Linked DNA regions of Homo sapiens: region 1 is linked to region 2. Evidence: fine-mapped expression QTL. A gene starts in region 2. The other region holds a variant in brackets. All regions are shown on one strand. Distances are between the middles of the regions. Region 1 overlaps PLEKHH2 (pleckstrin homology, MyTH4 and FERM domain containing H2). Region 2 holds the start of PLEKHH2 (pleckstrin homology, MyTH4 and FERM domain containing H2).

What was found. PIP is the estimated chance that this variant, and not a neighbour inherited with it, causes the effect.
Region 1: its variant is fine-mapped to the expression of PLEKHH2 in thyroid (GTEx, PIP 0.98). The same link has a PIP of 0.9 or more in esophagus muscle and tibial nerve.

The regions. Positions count from the first base shown.
Region 1 is chr2:43,704,387-43,716,186 of GRCh38, reverse strand. It overlaps PLEKHH2 (pleckstrin homology, MyTH4 and FERM domain containing H2), which reads right to left. Exons shown (of 30, transcript NM_172069.4): 10 at 9,771-9,865; 11 at 8,642-8,786; 12 at 6,061-6,197; 13 at 5,857-5,967; 14 at 5,612-5,698; 15 at 3,804-3,962. Among named protein-coding and RNA genes, the nearest start is that of C1GALT1C1L, 34 kb to the right of the region's middle. RefSeq lists a silencer at 963-1,162. The variant G/T (reference allele first, on the strand shown) is at 4,768.
Region 2 is chr2:43,632,532-43,644,331 of GRCh38, reverse strand. PLEKHH2 (pleckstrin homology, MyTH4 and FERM domain containing H2) reads right to left here and starts at 7,072. Exons shown (of 30, transcript NM_172069.4): 1 at 6,953-7,072. RefSeq lists a silencer at 6,839-7,168.

The sequences.
Region 1 (11,800 bases), 72 kb before region 2:
ACTCAAGGTACATCTTTTCCACCCTAAAAAATGCCTCTCCTGACTCCAGGTTCCCTCCAGCTTGATTCTAACATACTGAAAGGTATAGATAGTCCTTGAAACTCAAATACTTCACTTATTAATCTCCCATTTACCCTTCAACCCACTGAAGGCAACGTACCTTCTTCTCTGAGCACATGTGACACTAGATCAGTCACAGGCATTACTCTCAGACCTCTGCACACATCTCCTTACTGTGCCCTTAAATTTACAAGTGTTACCCTGCTCTCCCCTGCCCTACATAATTTCCCATAATTGCCACATGTATGCTGATGATTCCTCGAATCCTTCTCTCCAATCCAGCCCTCCAGCACTCTTCTCCGATGTAGACTGGTGGTCTGCTGCCTGCTGGACTTTTTAACTAAGACATCCTACCAGCTCCTGATGTCTTCCAAAATCACCTAATCTTCCTAAAACTGCTCCTCTTTCCTGAGCTCTCTCTTATCTGCTATCATCTTTCTACCAGGCATCTTTATCTCTTCTACTTCCTAACCCCAAATTCAATCAAACTAAAGATTTTACCTCTTACCATTATTTAAATTCATCCTCTCCTCTCTTTTCCTGTAACCCCTTCAGAGTTTCATCCTCTTCATAGGAACCACTCCCTTAACTGTTCTTAGAACCTCCACCTTGCCTCCCACTGATTCATCTTCCTCTTAGCAGAGTAATCTGTTAGCAACATGAATATGCCCATGCTCCTGTTACAAACCCTGCAGGGTTTCAAATATCCTTCAGGATAAAGACCAAAGTCCTTAAAAAGACAAAAATAGCTTTCCACCATCCATAGGCCCCTCTAGCTTTTTCTCCAAAGGACTTGTTCCTAGTGCAGCTGGCACTGCTTCGAGATTTTTTTTTTCTTTTTTTCTTTTTTTTTAGACGGAGTTTCATTTGTCGCACAGGCTGGAGTGCAACATTGCAATCACAGCTGATTTCAACCTCCATCTCTCAAGTTCAGGCGATTCTCCTGCCTCAGCCTCCCGAGTAGCTGGGATTACAGGTGCCCGCCAGCATGCCTGGTTAATTTTTGTATTTTTAGTAGACGGGTTTTCACCATGTTGGTCAGGCTGGTCTCGAACTTCTGACCTCAGGTGATCTGCCTGCCTCAGCCTCCCTAAGTGCTGGGATTACAGGCATAAGCCACTGCTTCAAGACTCTAAGCCTTCATTCGCGCTGTCTCCTAGCCTAGAGTACCACCCCTCCACCCATTCCCACTTGGTATAACTAACTCCTACTCCTCCTTGAAGACTCGGCACAGGTAAATCTTCTCTCAGAAGTCATTACTGACACATCTCAATAATTGTACTTTATATCATTGTAAATAAGCTTTTGTCTCCCTCTTTTTTAATAGATTATGAGGCTCTCTGAGGAATGGGACAGTGGCCTATTCATCTTAGTATCTTTCAGCACATTGTGCTGCATGTGGTAACTGCGTAATACATTTTCGTTTTTTAAAGAACTGAATTTTTATATAGAAAATGTTTTTCCTAAGCATTAAAATAAAAATTGCAAGAGTGACTGTCTAGAATCAAATTAGTCAAGTTCTTAGCATCTACCTATATTATTCTGTACTTAATAAAAACAATGTGACAACCTGAGAAAACTTCCTCCCCTCCAAGGTATTCAAATGCAATTTGACAGTATCTCATATTGCAGCCTGAATGTGAGCTCAGAACAAGTCACTCAGAATAACTGAGGGAAGCTGTTCTCTCATAAGGTTCTAAGGGTGAAAATATGGGGGTGGACAAGCACAAATGGCAGGAAGGAAACTTAATAAGCATCCTGGCTATAAACCCTAATGATTTAGTCATCTGAGAATCCCATCGACTCATACTCATTTAAAATGCAATTGTGAAATGGGAAGTGGAGAATCGCAGAAATGTTATAGGAGCAGAAACTGACATGCCTTGCTGATAAAGTAAAAACAAGCAAGCAAACAAAATCCTAATTGTGGGGGAAGTAATAAACCCTTAGCCATGGGATCATCTTAAACTCTCAGGGTTTGATATGCATATGAGGTCCTTGAAACAAGAGCATAGCTCATTATTATGAATTATAGTAAGAATGTGATTTAAAGTAGCAGTGTGTTCACTGGAAAAGTATTGTGCAAATATTTTGTTCCCTAACCCATCAGTAACTAAGAAAACATTTTCACAGTCGTATTTTAGAAAAAACATAGTACATAGTATATTTCTTTGTTTAATGCAATAGTGAATTAAGTTTTACCTTTGCTATAGTTGGTCAGTCTTTTTAAATATTATGGAATAACACCCACCTACATTCCCACATTAATAATAAGTATAAACTACACAGTAGCATAGTTACTTTCCATCTAATTTTCCACCTCTTACATAATCAGAGTACATGAATGAGGAGTGATTATGTGTGTATACATATTTTGTTGTATTTTTCAAAAAGTGACCAATAGGACTTTTTAAAACTTAAAAATAATATTAAGTCAATACTTACTCATTGTAAAAAAAAAAAAAACAGAATTAAGCAAAAATAAATAAAATCACAGAGATAACCAATATACTTTGGTATATTTCCCAGACATTTTTCTATAAATACTTACAACAAATAAGGTATAATAATGTAATACTGCACTCTACTTATTACCTAACAATACATCATATTTCTATAGCATTAGATATTCTTTTACAACATTTAAAAGGCTGCATAGTAAAGCATTATATGGTTGTACAAACATTTTTTAAAGCTATACCTTACCCTACATCTAATTTGATCCCAATTTTTCTTTATTATGAACCATGCTGTGCAAGGAATCTTTCTGGGGTAATGGAAATGTTCTGCATCTTGATAGAGTCAAAAGTAAATAGCTTTCAAAACTAGTCAAACTCTACACTTAAGATCTGTGCATTTCAGATATATTAATCATACCTCATTTTTTAAAATAGGAAAAAAAACATGCTGTGAGGAACATCTCATAATTAAATCTTTTGCAAATTAAGACCACTTCCTAAGGATAAATTTTTAAAACTGAGATTGCTGGATCAAAGGAGATATATATGCGTGTGTGTGTGTGTGTGTTGATTTGATATTGATTTGTTCACTCAAAATTATTGGCTAAGTTAACACTTCAGCCAAGATATTGCCAAACTGCCTTTTAGAGTAATGCTCTCACTAGCAGATTTCTTTTTTTTTCTACTGCCTATGTAATTGCAGAAACTAGCAGATTTTTTAATCTGTGTCAATACTAGGTTTCAAAATTTGTAAAAACGTCTTACTTTTCACCAGATTTTAAAAAGTGCCACCTCTTATTTCAATCTGTGCTTTTAAAAAAATTGAGTGACAGTAAAATGTTTTTCCATATGCTTATTGATCATTTGTATTCCTTCTAACCTCGATGATCTCTCTTTCCTGCCCATTGAGTCTTTTGTTCCTTTTCCCCCAATTGGTGTTCATTGTTTGCTTACTGATTAGAAAAAAACGTGTTAAATATTAATGATATTAACCAGTTTTCACATGTTTCAAATACCTCTTCAAAGTTTTTCAATCCTTCTTTTAAAAATTCTGCTCGTAGAATTTTTAATAGAGCCTTTACATTTTTACATATTATAGTCAAATTTGTCTTCTTTTCATCTTTATAGTTTTTGCCTTGGGCATCATACTTAAAAACACCCTTTCCTATCCCCAAGATCATATCAATATTCAATATATGTATATGCTCTGACATCCCATTTTCAGCGATCATGGGCTCATGCCCATAGCTGCCTGGGACATTGCTATGCACAGGAGGTTCCTACCTTAGTGAGCAATCCCTTCATGGTGGGTTTGCCCTCAGGCTGCAGGGAAAGTGGGTTGGCAGCTTGTACTCGAAGAACATTCTGTAACACTTTAATCCACTCTTCCAATATATTGGGAGAATCTGCAGTCAGATAGTATGTGTGTTTTTCAGTGGTCAACTAGAATGCAACGAGAAAGGTATAGGAAAGAAAACTGTGAAGATTTAGGATTGTTAGCATTTCCTTGTTCATTATTCAAACGTCATTACTTAACACAGAAGCAAACATGCTAAATCTCAAGTCCCAGTTTCTAAATAAATGACTCCATATCAGTTAGAATATTTTAACCACTTTGTGAGAATTACAGCAATTAAATTTTTGTGGAAATAACTTTGTTACTCCAGTTTACCTAATTTTGGGGTTATGATTTTATATCTTGTTTATTTGTCACATTTTCCCTTTCTTGCTTAAATGTGTTACAGGTTCCTACTTTTCTTTTTTTTTTTTTTTTGAGACAGAGTCTCTTTCTGTCGCCCAGGCTGGAGTGCAGTGGCGCCATCTTGGCTCACTGCAAGCTCCGCCTCCTGGGTTCACACCATTCTCCTGCCTCGGCCTCCCGAGCAGCTGGGACTTACAGGCACCTGCCACCATGCCCGGATAATTTTTTTTGAATTTTTAGTAGAGACGGGGTTTCACCGTGTTAGCCAGGATGGTCTCGATCTCCTGACCTCATGATCCGCCTGCCTCAGCCTCCTGAAGTGCTGAGATTACAGGCGTGAGCCACCGCGCCCGGCCAGGTTCCTACTTATTGAAATGAGGAGCAGAATGATTAAAGACTATAATAAAATAGCATAGTTTTAGCAACTAAAGAAGAGGTTTCTTAATACAAATGACAAAATCAACTATAAATAAAATAAGAAGATCTTGCATATAAGAAGATAAATTATTGGAACGAACATGTGATTAGATATTATGAACTCAGAAT[G/T]TTCCAGTCTCAAATTAGCCACACTGCAAATTTTCCAAATTTCAGAAACTTACAAATGATTCTTAACTGCCATGCCCAAAGACAAAGCTTTCCTTGATTCTCCTTTCTAAATTTTTGAGAGGTTTTCAGGTACAAATCACTGGAAACATTGATAATGTACCTTTCTGGCAAAGTTGTCCTCCACCCTCCAAAGGAGCAATATAAGAAAATAATGGTTATTGAAGACATTTCAGAAATAAAGTGTCTGACTTTAAATTACATATACTAGAATATCTCAACAGCCTGTGTTTTAAATTTAACAGATTTCTGGCAAGACTGGCCTTATGTGTGAGTAAAATGGGCAGCAGCTGCCCCTACAGTGTGACTTGCTTGGCAGCACACTCCCTCTGCTCACCAATATATTTCCCACTTTGGTGTTATGGCATCTGAAGTTCATATAAGAACTGTCATTTTCAGATTCTATATTAAAATACAAACATTCCTGAATTTCACAGTACATTATATAACTAACATCTTATTGAGAATTCATTTACCAGATAACCCTTCCTTAAAATAGCTTCACAGTTGGACAGCTGAAAATACCTAGGAGATTAAATATGAGGAAAGAAGAGTATAAAGGAAGAAAGGTAAAGTGTGGTGGGAGTTACTCAACACACACCTAACTTACATTATAGTTTTAACCAAAAATTCGTGGAGTTTCACATACTTCCAAGGCATCAAACTAACCCCCCAAAGTGAATAAAGAAACACTGAATTATCCTATCTCCTTTCCATTAGGTTGGATAATTGAGAATTGAGTCTGGCATGATACAAAAAAAAAAAAAAAAAAAAAAAAGTTAAGTACCTGAACTGTTTGTTTGTTATCTCCTCTTAAAATACTACAGGATGCACTAAGTTCAATATGGCCCTGGGGTTTTCTAATTACATCACTCTGTATGAAACAGAAAAACAAATGGAAAGTGATTAACTTTAACAGTAATAATAAGGAATGCTTTGTATCATTACTTGCATTATGGGAAGGAAATCAATCAGGCGTCTGATTTATAGTTTGAGGAATTACGTTCTAAACAGAAAACACTTTCCACTCACCGGAGATTTGTAGTAAAGTAATTCACCACCTTTAAGAACAAACCACCGCCGCTTCCAAGACTTGACTTTACCACTCATTTTTAATAAATAACCAGATTTTTCCAGTGGTTCCTAATTTTTAAAAGATAGACAAAAGCATTTTCAGTTTCCTTTTGGAGGCTCAATCTGACTGACTGCTTTTTAAAAATCATATTCAATATTTACATTTTTCCCATTATCACTGGAAGATGAGCAAGTTTTTGGGAGCTTCTGCTCTGGCTGTGAGTACTCCGTGTCTGTGGAGTAAGCATCAGGAGGAATAGCATAATCACTTTCAGAAGCCACAGAGGAGAGAGACACACCTAAGAGAACAAAGAAAGAAATCAAGTCAGTATTTAATACTGGGGAGGGCCAAACACCAGCTCTGAGTGCTCCTACAGAATGCAATTATTCCTAAATCATAAGCCTCCCTAGACTAGATTTATTCTCATTCCTTTGGCCATAAATAACTTTTTTTGAGACAGAGTCTCGCTCTGTCACCAGGCTGGAGTGCACTGGCACAATCTCGGCTCACTGCAACCTCTGCCTCCTGGGTTCAAGCGATTCTCCCGCCTCAGCCTCCCGAGTAGCTGGGGCTACAGGTGTGCGCCACCACGCCCAGCTAATTTTTGTATCTTTAGTAGAGATGGGGTTTCATCATGTTGGCCAGGATGGTCTCGATCTCTTGACCTCGTGATCCGCCTGCCTTGGCCTCCCAACATGAAGAACTTTTAAAGCAGAAAACAGAACTAAGAGGTAGGGACTGTCATGTAAATCTCTAAGGAAGTGAAAGGAACAGGAATAATATTTTGGTATGATTACAATCACACAGCTATTTTACATATATAAAATATATGCAAGAGTCTACTCATGTATATTTTATTAAGAATTAAAAATATGTGTATTTACACATTGACATATAGGCAAACAAATGTTGAACCTTAATTTATCAAGATTTTCACAATCACATTTTAAATTTCTTAACTTCTGTAATCACTTTTAAAGTAACCTCACATTTTAAAAAAACACAATTCAGTAGTATTTTTTCATTCAAGTTCCATAAGCTACTAAGCAGTTTACAGATTTTAAAAATATTTCATAAAAGAGAAACAATAAGATTGAAAGATATAAACAAACTATTTCTTTCACTTGCCAGCAGCTATAACATAAAATTCAATGGAACATTTATACAATGATTCATTTGCCTTTACAGAAAACTACCTGGGAGTTGCAAGCCACATTTCATGAGTCACTACAATTGGAGATTTAGAATATATTAAATAAAATCAAGGACTTAGGTAATTATTTATAAAAGTATCCAGCAATTTTTAAAAATATGTATTAACATTTAAGGGACATATTAGAACAATGCCACTCTTGTGACACTGCTTTTTATTTGACTCAGACAAGTAACAGTTGCTATAATATCTTCATTTTTCATAGAATAAACAAAAATGTAGACCTATAGGGACCTCAGTGATTGTCATGGCTAAGGCCCAAGGAGACTAAGGCCCAGAGATTAAAGGATTTGTCCAAAGTCAAAGAGTTAGGCAGGGGCAATGTTGGAACACAAGTCTCAGGCTCCCAGGACCAGGGCCAGTGTGCCAGGCACTGTCCTAGATGCTAGGGATAGAGCAAACAACAAAAATATTGGCTCTCGTGGAACAAATTCTAGCGGAAGGAGACCACTGACAAACAGGCAGTAGGTGGTATGGAACAATAAAACATAGAGCAGACTAAAGGGAATAAAAAGAGCTGGCAACAGAAGAAAGACAAAGGGCTGCAATTTGAGTGGTGTGGTCAGGGTGGACCTCATTGAGAAAGCAGCGTTTGCTGATGGAGGTGAGGGAGTCAGCTATACGGACATCTAGGGGAAGAATACCAGCTGGAGGAAACAGCAGTGCCAAGGTCCTGAAATGCAAGCATGCCTGGCATGTCTCAGAACAGCAAGAGGGCCAGTGAGACTGGAGCTGAGTACAGAGAAGAAAGGAGATGAGGTCAAGTACGTGACCGAATCCTGGAACACCTTATAGCCGTTGTGAGGAGCCACTGCAGTGTTTCCAGCAAAAGTGTGTCATAACCTGATTCTGGCTGTAGCGGGGCAAGTTGAGAGCAAGAAGACCAGTGGAAGCTCAAAATATGAAACCAAGGAAGGCTGAGCAGCTCCAGTTGAAGCCGAGGGGATTGGAAGTATCCAGAGGTTCCATGGAACACAGTTTGAAAGCCAACAGACACACCATGCTGCATTAAGGGCTTTTTATAACATACAGATGTCATTTGGTGGAATTAGATCTCTCTGTAACCACTACCTACACACAGAATGTCTTCAAAATCCACTAAAAATCATAGACATATTCCAAGTAAATGTTGTTCTCCACTTTAACATCAGATTAATTGACAAATTTTAAGGTATATTTTCTGCCAGTTAGCAGTGTAACAACTTTAGCTGAAATAAGTCTATTTCACAAATGCCAAGAAAGAAACCTCATTTTGGCCAATTATCTCACTTCATTCCAACAATAAAGTGATCTCCCTCTCACAGACAATAAAAAGCTGAAAAAAAAAAACTATATAATTTGTCTGAAATCACAGAGAATTAAGAAGAGAATTAGGAATATAAACATATCAGTCATAGGCTAAAGTTCTTTTCACTAGGGTCTGAAGCAAGTTCTTGGATTTAAAAAATAATCCTGTAATGGAGATAAAATTCCCAATTAATATTCAGAATGATCTGGAGTTGCCTCATATGCCTGCGATTTTCCCTCACCTCGTTTCATGGCTCTGGGGCTGCCTGGCCCACTCCTACTGCGTGAGTCTGACTCTGACGTCCGGGAGCTGGATCTGGAGCTGTCTTCTTCCTCTGACCCAGATGAGTCATCCAGGAAAGGGCTGCTACTTATTTGGGTCGCCTTCTAAAGAAAAGTGGAACAACCTCCCTGTATCCATCCCTAATGTTACCACTCATCCAAGAAAAGGCTGCTAGTTATTAGGGTCGCCTCCTAAAGAAAAGCAGAGCAACCTCCCTGTATCCATCCCTAAGGTTATCACTCTTTTTAGATAACAGAAAGTTTTACAGGAAGAAGTCATAGCATAGAATTTTTTTTTTTTTTTTTTTTGAGGTGGAGTCTTGCTCTTGTCACCCAGGCTGGAGTGCAATGACATGATCTCGGTTCACTGCAACCTCCGCCTCCCAGGTTCAAGCGATTCTCCTGACTCAGCCTCCTGAGTAGCTGGGATTACAGGCACCTGCCACCACGCCCGGCTAATTTTTATATTTTTAGTAGAGACAGGGTTTCGCCATGTTGGCCAGGCTGGTCTCGAACTCCTGACCTCGTGATCCGCCCGCCTCGGCCTCCCAAAGTGCTGGGATTACAGGCGTGAGCCACCGTGCCCAGCCAGCATATGATTTTTAAAAGGAATTTGGGAATGTATTTTGCTGTTATCAAAATCATGTTGTTAAACCCTGAATTCTAATAAGCAATTATAAAAGATGCCTGAAAATATAAGGTTGTCAATACCTGCAATCCTTCTTTTAATTAATACTTCAAGCAAGGAAGGGGTACCCTGGCACTGATACAAAGATCTGCCTAAATTAGGAGTTTTCATTACATTATTAATAATATGTCTCCTTTAAACAATTCATGGCCATGGGGAGGTGGGGGAATCACATGGGACACAGTAAAAACTGACTCAGACCTCTAACATTCTGATAAGTGTCTTCTGCAGACCTTTCCATTCCTTCTTTTTTATGATATGTTAACGTGAACTTGTAAAACTTTCTATAAAGGGAGAGCCTGTGTAAAATGTTAAGAATGGAATCTGGAGCTTGAATTAACAATTTCCTTGATCCATCATGAAGAGAAGCACATGTTTTAACAATAACAATAATGAGTTACCCCCTTCAAAGTTGTATACACTGGGGTGGTCATGTTCTTGTATATCAGAGATGTATAAAGTCCTGATGTAGTATAGGAAAGGGTTGCAGCAGAATCTGAAACAGAAAAACAGGAAACAACATTTTAAAAAACTTCTAATTAGCACATTGGTCTTTTTCTTATGAATACAAATGAGCATAATCTCCATTTAAAAAGCAATTCGATTAATACATGATTACTAACTGTATAGTCTACTTTACAGATTATGGCATTTACAGGTTTATTTATACACTTTTTTACATGGTTCATTATTTCCTCATGTGTGCTAGTTCCCCAACTAGACTGCAAGCTCTTTGAGAGCAAGAACCATAGCTTTTATTTCCTTGAAATCTCCATGCATGCTTTGCTCAGGCTGGGCAGAACTAAGTACAGGCAACTGCTTACCAACCAATTCAGTAAGCAGTACATAGGAAGATATTCTCTGACTATTCATAACCCTATTACCAGCATGGTATCAAAACCACTGTTCTGGTGGGGCATGGTGGTTCCCATCTGTAATCCCAGGACTTTGGGAGGCTGAGGCAGTGGATCGCTTGAGCCCAGGAGTTTGAGACCAACCTGGGCAACATGGCAAAACCCTTTCTCTACTAAAACCAAACATGGTGGCATACACCTGTAATCTCAGTTACTTGGGAGGCTGAGGCACAAGAATTGCTTGAACCTGGGAAGGGGAGGTTGCAGTGAGCCGAGATCATGCCACTGCACTACAGCCTGGGCGACAGAGCAAGACTTGTTCTCAAACAAAAACCAAAACCAAAACCACTGTTCTTAAGCCTTTATCAGGTAAATCTGATGTTGAAATATTGGAATGTAATTTCCTAGCTAAGTGTAGTGGCTCACACCTGTAATCCTAGCACCTTGAGAAGCTGAGGCAGGAGGATTGCTTAAGGCCAGGAGTTTGAGACCAGTCTGGGCAACACAGTGAGACCCCCATCTCCACAAAAAATCTTAAAAAGTATCAAGGCATGGTGGTATGCACCTGTCATCCTAACTAATCAGGAGGCTGAGGCAGGAGGATCGCTTGAGCCCAGGAGTTCAAGGCGGTAGTGAGCTATGATCACACCACTCCACTCCCACCTGGGTGACAGAGTAAGACGCTGCCTCAAAAAAAAAAAAAAAAAAAAAAGGATAAAATTTCCTGAATGGAAAGAACTGCAGATAGCTGAACAGGAACTGAATATCAATAGTTACCCCTAACATATGAATTAGTGGTGGGATAGGGAGGAGGTGGTAGAAAGAACCACAGGAAAATTTCTTGTTATTCCAGACAGTTCTTGTTGTTTGGTTTTATTTTTTGTAATGAGCATGCATTGTTTCCATAAGAATTTTTTGGAAGAAATAAAGAAAGGGGAAATGTGTTTTAAATTCTGGGAAAAAAGGACATAGAAGCCTATATTTTTACCATTTTAAACAGCTGAAATGCCACAGTTTCTCTGATTTAGTCTCTCTCAGGTAAAAAAATATACATCAGAGTTGAGTGTATTTGAGTCCCCACACTAAGATGAATTTCAATTTTAAAATACAAATCAGCAACCCTAGAAATCATTTTTTGAAAGTTTACACAACTCTTTATTCCAATGAATTTAGACATTTAGGAAGTTCTTAGCGAATGAAATAGCAATGCAAATCACTTTTCTAAACTTTTTTTATTGTGGGAAAAAACACAGAACATAAAATTTACCATCTTAATCTTTTTTTTTTTTTTTTTTTTTTTTAAGACAGAATCTTGCTCTGTCACCCAGGCTGGAGTGCAGTGGCACAATCTCAGCTCACTGAAAGCTCCACCTCCTCGGTTCACGCCATCCTCCTGCCTCAACCTCCCGAGTAGCTGGGGCTATGGGCGCCCGCCACCACGCCCGGCTAATTTTTTTTGTATTTTTAGTAGAGATGGGGTTTCAACGTGTTAGCCAGGATGGTCTTGATCTCCTGACTTCGTGATCTGTCTGCCTCAGCCTCCCAAAGTGCTGGGATAACAGGCGCGAGCCACCGTG
Region 2 (11,800 bases):
GCTATTTCTAGTAGAACAGACAGTATAACAACACCACACAAACACAGAGTGTTATTATTTTAGCTGTGCCCAACAGATAAGATTGTTTGAATCTATCAGCTCATAATTTTACCATATTCTGAAATTTAAGGAAGTATTACAGTTTGATTCAATTGCTACAATTCACGGTTTGGATTTTTACTATAATGATTCCTTATCATCACTCTCAATTTGGCCAGGTCCAGGTTAAGTCTTTCAAGCCAGAGGTCCTTTGGCGTATTTAAGGGTAAGTTGTTGTGATCCTGACAAGTTTGCATAATTTTTATTTGGTGTAAGAGAAGGCACATATACATGCAATTTGGAGTTAGCCATATGAAGTAAATCTGGAATTAGTGTTTTCCATATTAACTTTCCTTTGGGAGGATATTAATTGCAGGGAGAAGCACTGTAAGGGGGAGGACAAGATGCAAGGGAATTGGTTTTGAAATTTTGAAGTGTTACTTGATTTTGGAAGCATGATGGTTTCTGGCTCTGAGATACATAAAAGTAGTTTTAAATGTTTGGTAATATTTTATCAGGCTATTTTTAATAAGCAGCCTAATAATGTATTTCTGAGTTCCCCTTGCTATGAACTGCCCTGCTATGAAATTTACATTAGGAATGGAAAGCCTCAGTTATGAAGAACGGTGACAGCAAAACTCTCAGAGCCCTGGAATGGAACTGCAGTTGAAGTATACTATTCTATTCTTTTGTTTTCTAAAAATATAACCACATTGATTTTCCCAGTATTTAGCGTAATATAGAATCCTCCCTAATCCTACACCAGTTTTTAAAAACTTTATGCTGCTAAAAACCCACTAAAAGATTATTTTCCTAGCATGAAGATTGTTTTGTACTTAAATCAATTTTCACATTAATACTGACAATATTCAGTACGTTAGAAATAAATATAAGCAGAATCGTTCTTAAAAGACTACAACATTTATTAAGTGCACCCCAGCTTCTTAAAGCCTTCAGATGTCCCCAAATTCTAGCCTTAATTTAAAGGAAACATATTACTGTAGAGCTGGAAGTCATTTTATTTTCATTTCTTTGTTTTCATAGAATCCTTGCCCCATTGTTTCCTGAGGTTTTTCCTAAGGAGATTAACCTTGTTAATAACCTTTTCCATTACCCATATTAGCATTTATGATTAATGATTCACATTGGCATTTACTAGCAATGATTTAGGAGTAGATAATGCAGTTTGTCGATCACAAACACGTTCACAGTTCTGGGGCTGCTTCATTTTTCTCCTTATTAGCTTTAGAGCGAACAGGGAAAGAAAATATGGATGCAATACTAGAAAATAAAAAGTAGGCCTGAAAGGGGCATCTTTACGTCTTGAACTACCATATCATTCCGCAGAAATGTAGGGATACTCTTCTAGCTTAAGGAATAAGAGGAGTCTATTTACCTATTTGTTAATAGGTTAATACTGGTTAATTTTTGCTCTACATGTAAAATAACTTGCCTATGTCCTACAGTAAAATGTCCACAGTTTTAAAAATAACATGAAGAGTGGATATTTTTCAACAAATTGAAATCAATCAATGTAATGCACCATGTGAAAAGAATAAAGAACAAAAACCGTATGATCATTTCAATAGACACAGAAAAATCATTCAACAAAATCCAACACCCCTTCATGATAAAAATATTCAAGAAACTACAAATAGACAGGAACTTCCTCATCCTGATAGAGGACGTTTACTAAAGCCCACAGCTAACATCATACTTACTGATAAATGACTGACAGTTTTCTCCCTGAAATCAGGAACAAGACAAAGATGTCTTTTCTCACCACTTCTATTCAACACTGTAATAGAGATAATAGCCAGGGCAAGACAATAAAATAAAAAACCATCTAGATTGGACAGGAAGAAATAAAACTATCTCTACTTACAGATGACATGATCATGTGCATAGAAAATTCTAAGGAATCCACAAAAAAATACTAAACTATAGAGTTTAGCAAGGTTTCAGGAAATCAGATCAACATACAAAAGTCAGTTGTTTTTCTATACACTAGCAAGGAAAAATCCAAAAATGAAAATAAGAAAATATTCCATTTACAATAGCATCAAAACTAATAAAATATTTAGGAATGAATTTAACAAAAGAAGTGCAAAATGTGTGCACTGAAAACTACAAAACATCACTGAAAGAAATTTAAAAATACCTAAATAAATGGAAGAAATTGTATATTCATGGATTAGAAGACTTAATATTGTGAAGATGGCAATACTTGCAAATGGCTATATACACACAATGCAATCTCTATCAAAGTTGCAACTGCATTTTTTGCAGAAATTGACAAGCTGATCAAACTTTGCCTGGAAATTCAAGGGCTGAAGAATAGACAAAATAAAATTGAAAAGTTGGAGGACTCACATGTTACTATTTCTAAACTTACTACAAAGCTATACAGTAGCTTGATTACACAGTGTGGTACTTGCATAAAGATAGATATATAGATAAACAGAATAAAGTTAAGTCCAGAATTAAAGCCTCACATTGATTTTTGGCAAGAGTGATAAGATCATCCAATGGGGGAAAGAATAGTCTTTTCAACAGATGATGCTGGGACAACTGGATATCCATATGTAAAAGAATGAATGTGGACCCATACCTCATACCATATATACACAGTAACACAAAATGGATCACAAACTTACAGGTACCAGCCAAAGCTCTAAACCAGGGGTGTCCAATCTTTTGACTTCCTTGGGCCACGTTAGAAGAAGAATTGTCTTGAGCCACACATAAAATACACTAACACTAAAGGTAGCTGATGAGCTAAAAAAAAAAATTGCAAAACAAATCTCATAATGCTTTAAGAAAGTTTACAAATTTGTTTTGGGCCACATTCAAAGCCATCCTGGGCTGCCTGTGGCCTGCAGGCCACAGGTTGGACACGCTTGCTCTAAACTCTTAGAAGAAAAGAGGTATAAATCTTCATGACCTTGGATTAGGCAACAGATTCTTAGATATGACACCTAAAGCACAAGGAATCGAAGAAAAAATAGATAAATTGGACTTCATAAAAATTTTTAAATTTTTGTCCTTCAAAGGACACTATCAAGAAAGTGCAAAGATAACCCACAGAATGGGAAAAATAGTTGCAAATCATGTATCTCAGGGATTTGTGTCTAGAATATATAAAGGACTCTTAGGACTCAACGATAAAAAAAGATAACCCAATTAAACAATGGGCAAAGGCCTGGACGTGGTGGCTCATGCTTATAATCCCAGCACTCTGGGAGGCCGAGGCGGTTAGACTGCCTGAGCTCATGAGTTTGAGACCAGCCTGGGCAAGGTGGCAAAACCCTGTCTTTATTAAAAAAAAAAAAAAAAAAAAAATTAGCCAGGCATGGTGGTGCAGGCCTGTAGTCCCAGCTACTTGGGGGTTGAGGCAGGAAGATCACTTGAGCCCAGGAGGTCGAAGCTGCAGTGAACCATGTTCACACCACTGCACTCCAGCCTGGGCGACAGAGGGAGACCCCGATCTTTAAAAACAATAATAATAATAAATTAAAAATAAATAAATAAAAATGGGCAAAGTATCTGAATAGAGATTTATCCAAAGAAGATATACAAATGGCCAATAAGCACATTATTTGCTATGAGAGAAAATGCAAATCAAAGTCACAACAACATTCCACTTCACATCAAATAGGATGTTCTAATGAAAAAGACATCTAACAACAAGTGTTGGTGAGGATGTAGAGAAATGGGAACCCTCATACATTGTTGGTGGGAATGTAAAAATGGTACAGCTGCTTTGTAAACAGTTTTACAGTTCCTGAAAAGTTTAAACAGGCCAGCATGGTGGCTCACGCCTGTAATCCCAACAGTTTGAGAGGCTGAGGTTGGAGAATTCATCTCTGAGGTCAGGAGTTCAAGACCAGACTGTGCAACATAGCAAGACCTCATCTCTATCAAAAAATTTAAAAATCAGCTAAGCGTCGGGGAGCTTACCTGTGGTCCCAGCTACTCGGGAGCCCTGTGTGGGAGGATCACTTGAGCAGTGAGCTATGATCATACACTGCACTCCAGCCTGGGTGACAAGAGTGAGACACCGTCTCAAAAAAAAAAAAAAGTTTAAATATAAAGTTACCAAGTTATTGGAGTAACTTTATATTTGGTATATCAATATAAAGTATTGGTAACTTTATACTTGGCATTGGAGTTGCTGGGTCATATGCCAAGGGATGGGGTCATATGCCAAGGGATGAAATACACATCCACACCAAAACTTGTAAATAAATGTTCAGAGCAACATTATTCATGATAGCCAAAGAGTAGAAACAGCCTGTGTCCACCATCAGATGAATGAATAAAATGTAGTAGATCTGGCTGGGTGCAGTGGCTCACTCCTGTAATCCCAGCACTTTGTAGGGCAAAAGCAGGTGGATCATCTGAGGTCAGGAGTTCAAGACAAGCCTGGCCAACATGGCAAAACCCCGTCTCTACTAAAAATACAAAAATTAGCCAGGCATGGTGGTGCAGGCCTATAATTCCAGCTACTAGGGAGGCTGAGACAGGAGAATTGCTTTAACCCAGGAGGCAGAAGTTGCAGTGAGCTGAGATCCTGCCATTGCACTCCAGCCTGGGTGACAGAGTGAGACTCTGTCTCAAAAAAAAAAAAAAAAAAAAAAAAGTGGTACATCCATACAATGGAATATTATTCGGCCATAAAAAAGGAATACAGTACTAATACACGCTATAGTCATGGAAGAGCCTTGAAAACATTATGCTAAGTGAAAGATGCCAGACACAAAAGGCCACATATTGTATGAGTCCATTTACATGAAATGTCCATAAGAGGCAAATCCAAAGGACAGAAAGTAGGTTAGTGGTTGCCAAGGGCTGTGAGGAGAAGGTAGCAGATACTGACTACAATGGATAGGGGGTTTCTTTTTGGGGTGATGAAAATATTCTAGAATTAGATATTGGTGATGGCTATACAACCTTGTGAATATACCAAAACCCAGTGAACTGTATACTTTAAAAGGAAAAATCTTATAGTTTGTGACTTATATTAAGATCTCAATAAAAAAGATCACATATTTACAAATGACTAAAGAAAAAGTCGCAGTTTAAATGGATGTATACTAGGACTGCATTTACAAATTTAATCAACCATTATTTGTGGTTATCCCTGCCAAGAATTTCACAATTAGCTCAAAAAATTGAGAGGTAACTGTTAACCCCAAATATGAAAAGTATCATACATATATCTTACCTAGCGCACTTTGCTATGATGACATAATAAATTAATTCAAAGTCAAACATACCTATTTCTTTAGTTATGCTAATTATATATTTTATAGTGAAGTAGCAAAGCCTTAAGAATATTATTAAATTGGCATTTAACATCTACATTCCCTATTAATGGGTCATAATAAATCAGAACTGCAAATTGGTTGGATAATGGTCTGCACTGAGATCCAGACACCTGATTCCCTCATTTCATTCTGTAATTTCAGTTAGTTAACAAGTACAAAGCAACTGTTGTATTAGTGCACCATCTTGGGTAGTTAAAAATTCTAATTTTAAACAATATCCGCCATCCTTTTCATTACCACTAATGTTATAGAACTATATAACATTGGGAATATATATATAACTATATAACATAGCCGACTGCTAAATAAAGAAAATACCACATATAGATTCTGAATTTGAAAGGAATCTATCATGTCTAGATTCTGCATTTGAAAATAATCTATCTTCACTTCAGGGGACAGGAAAAAGTCTTGGAGTTCCAAATACCCCCAGTGATTTTTGGAAGTATTTACTGACATAAGATAAACTGTTTACAATTGTGGAGTGAATGCTCTTTTCTCTGAATCTCTGACTTCCTGTTTCTCTTCCAAATCCCAAAAAGGAAAGAAAAAGAAATGAAAGAATTATTCTACTTAGGCTTACCCTGATGAAGCGCAGCGTTAGTCTCTATGATATTCTTTAGTTTTTGCCTCTTAAGGGACAGCTTAACTGGGCTGGGTAATCGTGTGTGTGAGTGTGTGTGTGTGTGTGTGTGTGTGTGTGTGTGTGTGTGTTAAAAGATCTTTCTCGACGAGACTGAGGCATGCCTTGTTTAAGGAACCTTCTGACCACCACCTAGCCACCTAGCCCCACTTGGGCAACGCCTGCCCTTCGGTGACCCTGCCCAGAACAGCCGAGCTCCTCACTACATACTCCTCTGGGACACACCGCTGTGCGGGCCAGGCTTCCAAGACTGGCATTTTCACAAAGAAAGCAGTGACCCTCAGGTAGCCCACCACCAGAGCTTTTCCAATGTAAGTGGTTCGACTTCTATTTCCACAGCGTTACGCACAACAATATCGACGGGTAAAAAGTGTTGTCCTTTAAAAAGTGCCCCACTAACTTCGGGGACAGTGGTTTCCGGGTAGGTCACCTTAGGGTGCTTTGACGTGCCAGCAACTCGAGGTGTACAAAATGCTTCTTTAAAGTTTTGAGTTTAAAGTTTCGCCCCGGAGATCCTGGTGGATCTCCCGAAGCCTAAGGCGAGCGCGGCATCCCTGACCGCGCGGGTCCCTCGGCTCGGGGACCCTGGGCTGCCCCGCTGCGCCCCCGGGACCGCTCGCGCCGCGCCAGAAGCCCGGGCCCAGTGTTTCCAAACAGAACGTCACGGGAGCCCACGGGCGCGAGGGACCGCCGGCCACCGCCCCCTGCCCACCTCTCCCGGCGACATCCAGACTTGGGGGCCGACTCTGGGCTGTGGCGGGAGGTGCAGCGGCGGATCCCGAGTCAGCCCGCTCCGTCCCTCTCGTCCCCGCCTTCCCGCTCCTCCCGGCGCCCCAAACCTCGGCCCCGCGAGCCCCCCTGGACGGGGCGCCCTCAAGGGGGCGGGGATCCCAGGGTGGCAGGAACTCTGGAGTGGCCCCTCGTCCCCGGGCTTTCTCACCTGTCTATCTCAGCAGCGGGTCCCCGGCCGCAGCGCCCGATGTCCCGGCCGCGACTGGCCCCCGGGATCCCCGGACTCTCAGCCCGCGCCCGCCTCAAGCCGAGCTCGGAGAGGGCGGGGAAGGGCACCGCCTCCTCCAGGGACTGGCAGCCGGTGTAGCCAATGGGAGACCACAGCCGACCACCGGGCGTCACCGGGGGTGTGGCTATAACTTTGGCTCCTCCCAGTCCCTGCCCCAGGAGGGAGCTCTGTCCTGGAGTGGTACCCCTAACGTCCCAACTGCGAGACTCCAGAGCTTGCTGCAGCGGCCGGTCACCTTCATTCCACTCCGTCTGCCTGGACTGTTGCAGCACCCTCCCTTGGTCTCCCAGTCTGAAGTCTCTCCTCTTGCCAATCCACCCTTCATCTTCCTGCCAGGTTAATTTCCTTAAGAGCAGTTTTGATGAACAGTGTGCCAAAGACTTTCATTGGCTTCCGTTTGCTTAAATTATCAAGAACAGATTCCCTAGTCTAGTGTTCAAGGTCTCCATCCCGTCTTTTCAGGTTTATTTCTCACAGCTGCCCTTCACACACCTGAGACTACTGCTGTGCACCTCGCCACCCGAAGGAAGTGGCACTAGGAGCGTTTACATGCTATTTCCTGTCTCCACTTCAAAAAGCTCAGAATAATCTTCTCACCGGGCGCAGTGGCTCACGCCTGTAATCCCAGTACTTTGGGGGACCGAGGCAGGTGGATCACTTGAGGCCAGGAGTTCGAGACGAGCCTGGGCAACATGGTGAAACCCTGTCTCTACCAAAAAAAAAAAAAAAATATATATATATATATATATATATACACACAAAAAAAAAAAATTAGCTGGGCTTGGTGGCGCTCACTTGTAGTCCCAGCTACTCAGGAGGCTAAGGCTGGAGGATTGCTTAAACACAGGAGATGGAGGCTGCAGTGAGCCGCGATCATGCCACTGCACTGGATCCTGGGCGACTGGGCGAGATCCTGTCTCAAATCATCATCATTATCATCATCATCATCATCATCATCTTCTCCATGTAACTATGTCTGTCGCTCCACCTGGCAGAAATGTCGTCTCTGGGCCGGGCGCAGTGGCTCATGCCTGTAATTCCAGCACTTTGGGAGGCCGAGGAGGGCAGATCACGAGGTCAAGAGATCGAGACCATCCTGGCCAACATGGTGAAACCTGGTCTGTACTAAAAATACAAAAATTAGCTGGGCGTGGTGGTGCACGACTGTAGTCCCAGCTACTCGGGAGGCTGAGGCAGGAGAATCGCTTGAACCTGGGAAGCGGAGGTTGCAGTGAGCCAAGATAGCACCACTGCACTCTAGCCTGCCTACAGAGCAAGACTCCATCTGAGACAAAAAAAAAAAAAAAGGTCTTCTCTGGTTTCTGCTCCCTGAACATCTAGATTTTTGCCTCTCTTGGGGCTTAGCTCCCTCTGCCTTATGCACAGCTCCTCACATCTCTTTTAGACTGTGAGCACTTTGAAAACAAGGATTTGTGGTTTTTTTTTTTTTTTTGCATTCTCCTCAGCACAGAGCATATTGCATAAGTAAATTAGTGATAATTTAAATCCAGGTGAATTTTACATCCCAACTTAGGGTCTGGAGAGGTCAATCTCAGGGTAAAATAAAGAGAATTCTGAATGTTATGGATAATCGTTCCCCAGGTCACAAAGCTAGGTCAGACAGATTATTCTCTTTGGTTCACAGTTGGCCAATAGAGAGTATCAGAAAAACTTTTTCTACTACAATCTTTTTTTTTTTAACTTTATCTCATCTTATATAAAACACACACACACACACACACACACACACACACACACACACACACACACAGAGGATGGGCACAGTGGCTCATGCCTGTAATCCCAGCATTTTGGGAGACCAAGGCGGGCAGATGACTTGAGGTCAGGAGTTTGAGACCATCCTGGCCAACATATCGAAACCCCATCTCTACTAAAAATACAAAAATTAGCTGAACATGGTGGCATACGCCTGTAATCCCAGCTATTCAGGAGGCTGAGACAGGAGAATCGCTTGAGCCAGGAAGGCAGCAGTTGCAGTGAGCTGAGATCGCACCACTGCACTCCAGATTGGGTGACAGAGCAAGACTCTGTCTCAAAAAAAAGGAAAGAAAAAACCACAAAAGAGATAAAGATTTTCAAAGTTTCTCAGAGGAAAAGCAATAAGTGAATACAACTAAAAGTCCAGTAAGCAAGTATCAGGCTTTCATATTTCTTCCAGATGAGCATTAATTTTGAACAGGATCCCAGACTACCCCCACACATCAAATTCCTTTTGCCTTCTGTGGGAGCTGATGATGCATATCATATGAAAAATTGTCTTCAAACAGCTTTGGCAAACAAGCAGACTGGACTGGGCTTATTTTATAGAGCACGCAGGAGTTAAACAAACAGAGTTTCAGTAACTTGCATAATTTAACACAGCAAGTCAGTAGAGACCAAGCAGGAGAAAGAGAGAAAGAATGCCAAAATAGAATCACTTCCGTTTGTGAGTCAGAAATACTAATTAGACTAAAAGAACTGAGTGAATAAAGTCACTCATGAAAAGCCGCTTTGTAAACACGGCTGCCACCCTTGTAAGGCTTAGCCAATATTTACTTACTGTCACCTTTTTCTAGAAACATGACAAACTGAATTTGTCTGGGTATGGAGAATACAGCGGAACAGCATCCTATCTTTGTCTATGCTGAGAAAAACACATGGTACAATGGAATATTATTCAGTGGTAAAAAGAAATAAAGTACTGATACATGCTACAACATTGATAAACCTTGAAAACATTATACTTAATGAAAGAAGCCAGTCATTTAAAAGGCACATACTGTAGGATCCCATTTACATGAAATGTTCAGAACAGGCAAATCCATAGAGACATAAGTGGATTGGTGGTTGCTTAGGGCTGGGAAGGATCGGGGTGATGGCTAAGACAAGTGAGGTTTATTTTTGCGATAATAAAAACATTTATGGTGATGATTACACAACTTTGAACATACAAAAAGCCATGGACATACGCAATTTAAATGGATAAACTGGATGTTATTGAATTATATCTCAATAAAGATGTTTTAAAAAAGAAAAACATGTTGAATTTTGTGTTTTTACGTTAGGTAGCAGGGATAGAAAATGTTAGTAGCAATAGGCACCTTTGTTTTATAAGCATTAATCTAAATTGTGATATTATGTTTATTTGTGATTATTTTGTCTGTTTTCCCCCCCACAAGACTGTAAGTGCCAGAAAAGTAGAACAACTGTTTTTGCTCTTTAATGTATATCCAGTATCTAGCAAAAATCATAAGTCAAACCACCGTAAATCAGGAACTGTTTATACATCTCAACTTCTTTCAAGAAATTGAACCTACAAGGTCTAACAGCTGATTAGAAGGCGGATTAGAAGGGAGGCTTTGTGTCTGCATTATCAGGAAATGATGGTGCCATTTACAAAAGTAAGGAAGCAAGGAGAGGGAACAAGAAGAATGAGATCTGGCTTGGAGGTACTGAGCACAACTTGAGGTGCGAGTGAAATATCCAGGAGAGAGCCAAGAGAAAATCAGTCAGGCTGAGCTGGGGAGAAGGTTTGAATTTGGGTGTACATTTCAACGTATACTTCTGCATAGGGGGAGATTACTGTAAATTGTAGAATGATTGCTGGCCATGTGGCCATTTGGCACATTGGGAGCAAGGACAGAGGGGTTGAAGGGAAAAGAGGTACGGAGCTGGGTAAATATCAGGGAATAAGTATCTGATCCTTTAATCCACCACACATAAAATCCAAAAAGAAAGAAGGAGGGCGGAGACACTATCTCCACTAGAATAAGCTTGTGGCTTCTGGCACGGAGAAAGTATAAACCCCAGCACCTGGGAAAAGATATCAAAGACAAGGGGAAGATTTGGAAAAATGAATAGAGCTAGCAGGAACAGCTCTCTCTAGCTGAGGAGGGTACAGGTCTGGGCACTCCAGGCTGTTTACCTGCAACCTAGGAGACCAGAAAAGCCTTGGCATGAAGGAGGCCCTACAAACAAGGAGACAGACAAGCATCCTGGCCCTCCCAGTGGGGGTGGACCAGGAAAACAGTTTCTTTGATGTGTCCCCAGTGTCCAGAGCATACTGGCTTGCTCAGTCCTTTGGGTCTGCAACGAAGGCAGGATTTGCTTCAATCTCACCTCCCCAGGTGAGCTGGGCCCCCACTATCACAGATTGGTTGGGGGTAGCATAGGTGGTGCCAGAACTGGTGAAGGTGAGAGACTAATGGGCATTGCTAAGGTCATGAAAAGAAAACAAGTGTGTACAGAAGCATAACAAAAGCACAGAGGTGGGTACTTTGAGCACCACTTATTTTAAGGCAACTGAAAAGAGGAAAAGAATTGTTGAACCAGACTGAGGGAGAGCCAGTAATAGTTTGTTCAGGACCCATGAAGTTAAAAAAAAGAAAAAAAGACACTGGACATTAAAATCACACAGGAAAGCTGGGCAGGGTGGCTCACGCTTGTAATCCCAGAACTTTGGGAGGCCAAGGAGGGCGGATCACGAGGTCAGGAGTTCAAGACCAGCCTGGCCAACATGGTGAAACCCCATCTCTACTAAAAATACAAAAAAAATTAGGCAGGCGTGGTGGCATGCCCTTGTAATCCCAGCTACTCAGGAGACTGAGGCAGGGAGAATCACTTGAACCTAGGAGGTGAAGGTTGCAGTGAGTTGAGATCTCACCATTGCACTCCAGCCTGGGTGATAGAGTCACACTCTGTCTCAAAAAAAAAAAAAAAAGAAAAAGAAAGAAAGAAAAAGAAAATCACACAAGAAAACAGTGATCC